Regions from separate parts of the Homo sapiens genome. Here all the other regions are linked to region 1. The links come from fine-mapping of genetic effects on gene expression. A gene starts in region 1. Each other region holds a variant in brackets. All regions are shown on one strand. Distances are between the middles of the regions.

Region 1 (2,764 bases):
CAGGACCCTTCCATAACTCTGAATCATTTTTGTATTAATATGAGCATCCAAAGAGGCAGTGGTTAAGTGCTTAGATGCTGGACTAAGGGTTTAAATGCTGACAATTCACAGCCATGTGACCTTAGGCAATGCCTCTAATATCTCTAAGCATCAGTTTCCTCATCTATAAAAGGTGGATAGTAATAATAATTGCCCCATAGGATTGTTTGAAGAATTAAATGATATAATACATGTAAAGTGCGTTAGCACAGTGCTTTAAAAATGTTAACATTTTAAAATATGGCCCTTAAAGATGTTAACAATTATTGCCCAAGTGCTACATGATAAAAGGATACAGCAAAATCATTTCCACGAATGAAAAACTACATTTAAAAAAAGAAATTGCAAAAGAGAGAATGACGTTTGTTCAGTGTTTCTATACATAAGTTTTTTTTTATTATTATACTTTAAGTTCTAGGGTACATGTGCACAATGTACAGGTTTGATACATAGGTATACATGTGCCATGTTGGTTTGCTGCACCCATCAACTCGTCATTTACATTACGTACTTCTCCTTTTAAAAGGTGGGTGGTGGTACTTGCCTTTATGAAAACAGATAATTTTTATTAAGCATTTTATTGAATATCAGCTATGCCAAATCAACATCAACAACCAGAATCCCATAGATTAAGAAACCAGGATAAATATAATAAATGGTGCTTGCTTTTCAACCAAATTAAAGTATAATTATTATAAATCAGGGTGGGACGTAAGATCTGTTGTGTTACTTGTGGGAATGGATCACAAAAGGCATTATGTATACACTCCATGATTTTAAAGTATGTTAAATATTGTTACACATACGTTTTTATTTATTGAGGCCCTGTTGCCTGGAAGTGCCCAGATATAAACTGTATGACTCTGGCCCGGTCACCGCCTGCCTAGACAAAGCCCCTTAGTCTACCACTCTCATTCAACAAATATTACTGGGCTTCTTATTAAGCACCACGCACTTGGCTAAGTGCGACAGTACATAAATAAAAGACAACCGCTCCGGACCCCTGACAGCATGCACAGGGCACTCATCGTCTCTCTACCCCATCCGAGGACACACAGGCGGACGACGGCAGGAAGGGTCCCTGGGGAGCCGCTGGGGACACCTCACCTCCCGCTCGGACAGCGGCTCCCCCACCCACGGCAGTGCCCGCTCCTCCACGGTCCCGGCCAGGGCAGGGCGCAGCAGCATCCTCACCCCGCCCGGCCACCCTCCCACTTCGCCCCGCAGCCAGCGTCTCCATGGTAACCGTACACAAACTACCTCCCGCCGCCGCCCCGGCAGCCAGACCGCAGGGCCAGGCCGCTGCAGGGCGGGAGAGGCGGGCCGGGGAATGAGCTTGGCGAGGGCTCAGGGAAGGAGGCTTCCGACCTGACCCAAAGCACCTGTGATGAGCACTGGAGATAGCAGCGGCTGCGAGGTTCAATTCATCCTCCGGCTCTCCCCGGGTAGCGGCCAGGGATGCAGCGCTGGCGCGGGCGGGGTAACCCCACGACGCCGCTCGGCCACTGGGCCTGCGCGGGTCCCGCCAACGCATGCGTAGAAGCTCCGAGGCGTGGCGACGGCCGGAGCGGGTGGGAGGAGCCTGGAGAGGGCTGTAGGCCGGGAGGTCAGATCAGAGCAGGCGTCGTGGGCGGGTGTCCGCTTTTCGTTTAGCAATTTGCCGAACCACATTTGTTGCTCCCCTGCCGGATCCCAGCACCTCTGTTAAATAACAGCAGGCAGGACGGAAGCTTAATGCTTGTGGGTAAGAAGGATTTACTGGCTCAGGTTAGGGCTCTGTATAACCTGGAGCCACTTGCTGAGCTTCTGTTTCCTCCGATGTCAAGTGGCAGGAAATATTAATAATAGTACCTAGGTAGGTCTTGGGCTGTTATGAAGACTGCATGAGAAAATAGATGTAAAGCGCTATGCACGTGGCAATCAACGAATATTAAACTGTTGGCTGTTATTAAGCCCTTGCATTTGTACAGCCCTTCAGTTCGCAGAGTGTATGCACGTAATCGTACCTTCTGAGTCTGAGGTAGGCAGCCTGGCGTCCCCATCCACAGGAGAGGAACTGGGGGCCTGAGGTGTAGTGAGCAGGAGAAGGAGATTCCAGTCTAGGTCTCCCGTGGCCAATCGTTTTTTGTTCGTGCATCATCACAGTTGAACGGCAAAAAGCACTCCATTTATGTGTTTCTAGTTTAAATTCCCTTTTCTCCTGTTAGACCATTTAGCAACACTGTACAGTGTTAAATAAAAGTGAGATCATAAGCACTCTCCATTCAGGTTTGCACCACGTTTTATAAATATGGAGATTTTCCAGCTGAAGTGCTATTTGTCATCAACACTGGGAAAATGCCACTTCCCTTGGTGCTAAGCATCTTGTAAAGAATAATTAAATTGAAAATATTTTTGAGCACATACTATGTGTAAGGCATCGTGCCAGGTGGGAAATTATACTAACCTGAACTAAAGGAATGTAAATATTCTTCAAAATACTCAAGAGGATTTCAAACATAACAGAAAATAAATACCTATTCGTTGATTGGATAATTTTAGGACCCGAAACAGCCCTGGATTTTTCTGCTCATTCTTAGATAACTGACAGTCTTGTTGTAACTAAATCTCAACCACAGCTTCATTTCAAAACTATAATGTTGGGTGCAAGATATAAACAAATGCATCAAACTTCAAAAAGTCTTCCTCCCCCATTCCAGCCCCAGGCTTAAGGTCTCTAGCTGGC
Region 2 (2,764 bases), 310 kb after region 1:
AGACCAGCCTGGGCAACATAGGGAGACCCTGTCTCTACAAAATCAAAAAAAAAAAAAAAAAAAAAGTAGCCAGCCCTGCCTCCCTGTAATCCCAGCACTTTGGGAGGCTAAGGCGGGTGGATCACCTGAAGTCAGGAGTTCACGACCAGCCTGACTAACATGGTGAAACCCTGTCTCTACTAAATACAAAAAAATTAGCTGGGTGTGGTGGCACATGCATGTAATCCGAGCTAATTGGGAGGCTGAGACAAGAGAATGGCTTGGACCTGGGAGGTAGAGGTTGCAGTGAGCCGAGATGGCACCATTGCACTCCAGCTTGGGCAACAAGAGCAAAACTCCATCTCAAAAAAAAAAAAAAAAAAAATTAGCCAGGCATGGTGATGTGTATCTGTAGTCCCAGCTGCTTGAGAGGCTGAGGTGGGAGGATCACTTGAGCCCAGGAGGTTGGGCTTGAGCTTGCAACGAGTCATGATCATGCCACTGTACTCCAGCTTGGGTGACACAGTGAGACCCTGTCTCCAAAAAAAAAAAAAAAAAAAAAAAAGCCTTCTTTAGGAAGGTTAAATGTTACTCAATATTAAGTCCTTGTTTCCTAATCTTAGTTAATCATTAGGTTCACTGATGACACTTATTTTAAAAGTACAGTTTTTTGGGCCTCTCCAAAGAAGATCCAAGTTCAATAAGTTTGGCATGGGGCTGAATAGTCTGTATTAGCTTCCCAGGTGGTTCTGATGGTTCACTAGGTTTGGGGAACAATGTAGGAAGTCATCCTTAATTATCATCCAGCAAACAGTATCAATGGCGAACTCTACTTGCATGAGAGCTCAATAGTGTGAAGAAAATAGTGTTAAAGAAGTGAACATTTTTGCTGAGAATGTGCTGATTATAATGTTCTCATATGTAATATAATGACATATTTGGTCAGATTCTCCCAATGAATGATGATGTCCAGAACATGCCGGCACCTCAGGGTGCCCTCTTCAGGAGCCTCTTGGGTGGCCGAGGACCCCCAGTCCTCCCTACCTGAGAGGAGGGTCGTACAGGTCACCCTCAGTACTTCCAACCGCAGCAACTCAGCCCTTGGAAAAACCAACACCCTGACTTTGTTAATCTTCCAGAGAGCAGGCGAGCACCAAGACCCTGGGAGAGGCTGCCGCACACACACGAGGAGGGACCAGAGCTCAGGTGTCTGAACTTGTGGTCATGAGCCCCTGGAGAATCTATGCAAAACCTCAGCAGATTTTTGTGCAGAACTTGGTTACAGTGGAGATTTCTGAGCATTCATCCTCAGCTTCTTGGTGGAGCCCATGACAACAAAAGGTTAGGGCCTCAGCTTAGAGAATGAGTTCACGTCACCAAGCACAGATTATCCTCGGCCCTTTGCAGTCTGTCTCACAGGAGAAGGTTTGCACTGGGAGGAAGACCTAAAGTCCACCCTCCATTCTGCTTCATGTAGGCAGAGGGAGCAGAGGGCACACGTGCAAACATGAAGGGCCGT[G/A]AGTGCTGCGCAGAGAAGCCGGAAGGTGAAGGCCAAGCTACCCCAGGCCAGGGTCCAAGAATAGGAGTGGAGGAGTGACATCTGGCCATCATCTGTGCCTCTGAGCCCCTAGCAGGTTCCTCAGGGCTGCCTCTACTCATCTTCCAGATGGAACTGAAATGCCAGCCTGAAGAATGGGAGCCTGTGACCCAGCATCTCTCTCAGAATAGGAAGGGGGTTTGAGGACAATCGTAGATAACAATTGCTGGCTAATGAATGTCTGCGCAGTGCTGGGCACTGTGAGTAATGATCTCTGATGCCCACAGCACCCTGCAAGGTTGGTATTCTTTCCCCCATTTTACGAATGGGGAGATGAAGGTTGAGCAACTTTGGCTAACACACCAGGTCACACAGCAGGTATTTAACCCGGGTCTGAATCCAAATGAAGCTGGGTGAGTGAGGAAGCCGAGCTCCATACTAACTGGGGTTTGCCTATCATGGAGCTGAGAACCTAGCCGGCCTCTCTTGATCCCAGTCCAGACCCTTCTGCCACATGTGGAGCTTGGAAAGAATGAATGAACACAGAAAGCAGGTTCAGCACTGCAGAGGATGTAAATAGGGGCAGATGCAGGCTGTCAAGTAAAGAACAGGCTGAGGACACCCTCCCTGGCCCCTGCCCCCTGGGGCATAAATTCTAGCCTTCAGGCACAGTTGAAGGGGACTGAAACTCAGTGGCACAAACTGGGGACAAACCAGAGCCTTGGAGGAGAAAGCCTTCCCCAAACCAAGTGTCAAGGTGGGTCTAGAGAGCACACACAGGCTGCAGATTCAGTTCAGTCTGAATAAGGACGGTGCCCTGGGTCACAGCAAGAAGAGGGACCTGCCTTTAGCTGTCATCAGGTTGCCGTGGGGCCCTCTAACTTATGCTATGACAAGAGCTCTGAGTGCCAATATTCTGCCTGCTCCTTCTCCATCTCCATGAAGGAGTCCCCTCCCAACCACCACAGCAAATCCTCTCTTCCTTCCTCTTTCTTTCTCTCTCTCTCTTTTTTCTTTCTTCATCTTTTTTCTTTTCTTTCCTTTTCTTTTCTTTCTTCTTTCTTTCCTTCCATCCTTTCTTTTCCTTCCTTCCTCCCTCTTTCTTTTCCTTCCTTCCTTTCCTTTTTCTTTCTTTTTCTCTTTCTCCCTTCCCCTTCCCCTTCCTTCCTCTCTCTCTCTCTCTCTCTCCCTTTTTCTTTCTCCCTTCCCCTTCCCCTTCCTTCCTCTCTCTCTCTCTCTCTCTCTCTC
Region 3 (2,764 bases), 52 kb after region 1:
GCAATCATTGTTCAAAGGAAAACCAGAAATCCTTAACCCTATGTGCAACCCCCAAAGAGAATGAATGCAGTGGGAGCAGGGGTTGAGGCACAGAGAGAACTCCTGGCTTCCCACTCAGAAAAACATTATGAAAATCCTTGCAGAAGGTATGAGGCCTGAGATAAAGCATAATGGAAACAATACATGTGCATAGATACACGGTATGCCTTTACAAATACATTAAACCACAATCCACTTAAATGATAAGAATGAAACTGAAAGCTCATTCCATCTAATAAGGAGTAAAACAAATCCCTGTAAAGTCACTTGTATGACAGGATACTTGGGATAGGCTACATGATCTTAGCAGTCACCTTTGAGCTAATTCGGGCCTTTTGCCAGGCCAGGCCTGCATATCTCATTGATTAGGGCAAAACACACCAAAGAACTAAATTTAGGAACACGCAGGTGATTGGTTAGAAAAACCAGTCCACTCTGGACACAGCTGAGCCCACTAGATGGAATACATTTACAATCCTAGCAGCATTTGAGTACAGGCTTCCAGATTTCAAAGCAAAATTAGATAACTCCCTTATTCCAAATAAATTAGCAATAACTCATGACTTCAGTGACCTCGCACTTCAGTGCTTCCTAAATGAAATGTGATTTTCCTTGTTGAGATGTAATAATGCTGGGTACGTTGTTAGTTACATTATTTTTTATACTTTTTTGTGTATTTAAACTATTTTATAAAGTCTATATACCATTTGACCTAGTAGTTCTACTCACAGGAGTTTATTCTATAGATATGCTTATACATAAGCATTGTTCGTAATAACAAAGGATTTTAAATAGCTTAAAAGTTATCGAAAAGAACTGGTATGGATATTAGGCTATAGCCTTGCCGGGGGGAACTGTGTTGCCCATCAAAAGAATGAAGCAGCACTGACTGTGCTGATATGGAACCGTCTCCATTATACAGTAGTAGGAGACAAAAGCAAGAACTGAGTGTACAAAATGCTGCCATGTGCAGGTTGTTAAAAAAGATTACAAATGCGGCCGGGCACGGTGGCTCATGCCTGTAATCCCAGCACTTTGGGAGGCTAAGGCAGGTGGATCACCTGAGGTGAGGAGTTCTAGACCATCCTGGCCAACATGGTGAAACCCCATCTCTACTAAAAGTACAAAAATTAGCCGGGCGTGGTGGCAGGCATCTGTAATCCCAGCTACTTGGGAAGCTGAGGCAGGAGAATTGCTTGAACCTGGGAGGCGGAGGTTGCAGTGAGCTGAGATTGCGCCATCACACTCCAGCCTGGGGGACAAGAGCGAGACTTCGTCTCAAACAAAAACAAACAAACAACAAACAACAACAACAACAAAGATTATAAATGCATACACGCAGGGAACATCTCTAGAAGTCAATATGCCACCCTCTTCAAAAAATATCACGGCAGTAATCCAGTAATCTCTGGGGAGGGGTAGGGTGGCTAGGGGACAGGGAAGTGAGAAAAACTAGGTTTTAATGTTATGACTGGGTTTTTTTTT[C/TC]ACATTTAAATCAACTTTGTTGATATATATTATTCAATGAGTTTTTGACAAATAAATGTTATGTTCTTTTATGCTCTGACTTTGTGCATGTATTACAAAAAATAATTTTAAGGAAAAATATCTGTTTAAGCTAGATTCTTCAGAAGTTTTATAGAATAAATACTTATCTCAGATACCTTCTTTGGTCTATAAATTAGCAGTAGGAGGTGGTCACTTTGGAAAGATCAATTATTCTGATCTTAAAGGTAAATATCCTTTATGGCATTGACTCACCTGATATAGGTGGTGGGCGAGAGGAAAGGTGACCAAGAGAAGAACCAGGTGGCTCCTCTTGCTTCTAAAAGCTAAAAGCACCTCTCCCTGGACAGAAGATGGACTAGAAATATTTTTATTTTATAATCACTATATCAAAATATAAGGAGGTCTTTCTGAAACACTTGCTTATAAGCAAACGTTTCCAGACCTCTCAAAATATATAAGAATTATTCTATGTGCTAAAGCCAATTTAATGTTCTGACTGTGCCTTCTGTCAACTTAGGAGGTGGAATTTCATTTCACCTCAAATTTACTCTGCAAACTTGGTCAGAGGACTTTGGCCTCCTGCTCTATCAGGAAGGCCCTATGAGGTGGCAAAGTAAGGAGGACTGTGACAGAGGTAGGGTAATGGGCTGGGAAGGCCACAGAGTAGGGACATAGTGAATTAACCCCATCAGGGAGAGGTGAGGCAGAGGCCAAATGTGTGGGGAAGAGTCTGGAGATGTTCACCTGGTCCCGCCTGAGCTATCTAAGGAGGGAACGACTTGCTACCAAACCCTGTCATGTCACTCTCCAGTTCTTTCACAGTTACAGAGCCCATTGCCAGGGCTGGAATGCAGACTTCCCAAGCAAAGAGAATTGTTTCTCCTCTGCTTCCTCCTCTTTCTCCCCTTCCTCCTTTTGTCCCCAAAGCACCCAGCAAATGTGAAGACAGAGAAAGGAAGGAATGGTGAGCAAGAAGAATCCCTAATGCCAGTGGAGTTGGTAAGGTAAGTATACAATTTAAAGTAAAGATAAGCTAAATGTTCTGAATTGTATGTAGCCTTTTGGACAGTCTATCTAGAGGGGTTACACTCGACTGGGGAGTCGAAGCATGGCTTTCACACATCAGCTGAGTCCAGGTATCTCTGAGCATAGAGAGGGCGGCCCTCTGAAACTTCCAGGCCTCATGTTCATGTGGTGAAGGTAAGGCCACTTTCCTCTT

Direction of the effects. Positions count from the first base shown, and alleles are read on the strand shown. Sizes are in standard deviations (SD) of each study's normalised expression. Not every link is listed here.
As copies of TC replace C in region 3, the expression in NK cells of the gene that starts at base 1,546 in region 1 goes up (moderate effect, 0.70 SD a copy in Schmiedel 2018).

The links. PIP is the estimated chance that this variant, and not a neighbour inherited with it, causes the effect.
Region 2: its variant is the best candidate, but not a certain one, in a credible set for the expression of ARMC2 in caudate (GTEx, PIP 0.84).
Region 3: its variant is the best candidate, but not a certain one, in a credible set for the expression of ARMC2 in NK cells (Schmiedel 2018, PIP 0.63).

What each region holds. Positions count from the first base shown.
Region 1 is chr6:108,847,204-108,849,967 of GRCh38, reverse strand. ARMC2 (armadillo repeat containing 2) reads right to left here and starts at 1,546. Exons shown (of 18, transcript NM_032131.6): 1 at 1,422-1,546. RefSeq lists a silencer at 1,189-1,288.
Region 2 is chr6:108,533,981-108,536,744 of GRCh38, reverse strand. No RefSeq gene overlaps it. Among named protein-coding and RNA genes, the nearest start is that of FOXO3, 26 kb to the left of the region's middle. The variant G/A (reference allele first, on the strand shown) is at 1,499.
Region 3 is chr6:108,794,704-108,797,467 of GRCh38, reverse strand. No RefSeq gene overlaps it. Among named protein-coding and RNA genes, the nearest start is that of LINC00222, 44 kb to the right of the region's middle. The variant C/TC (reference allele first, on the strand shown) is at 1,525.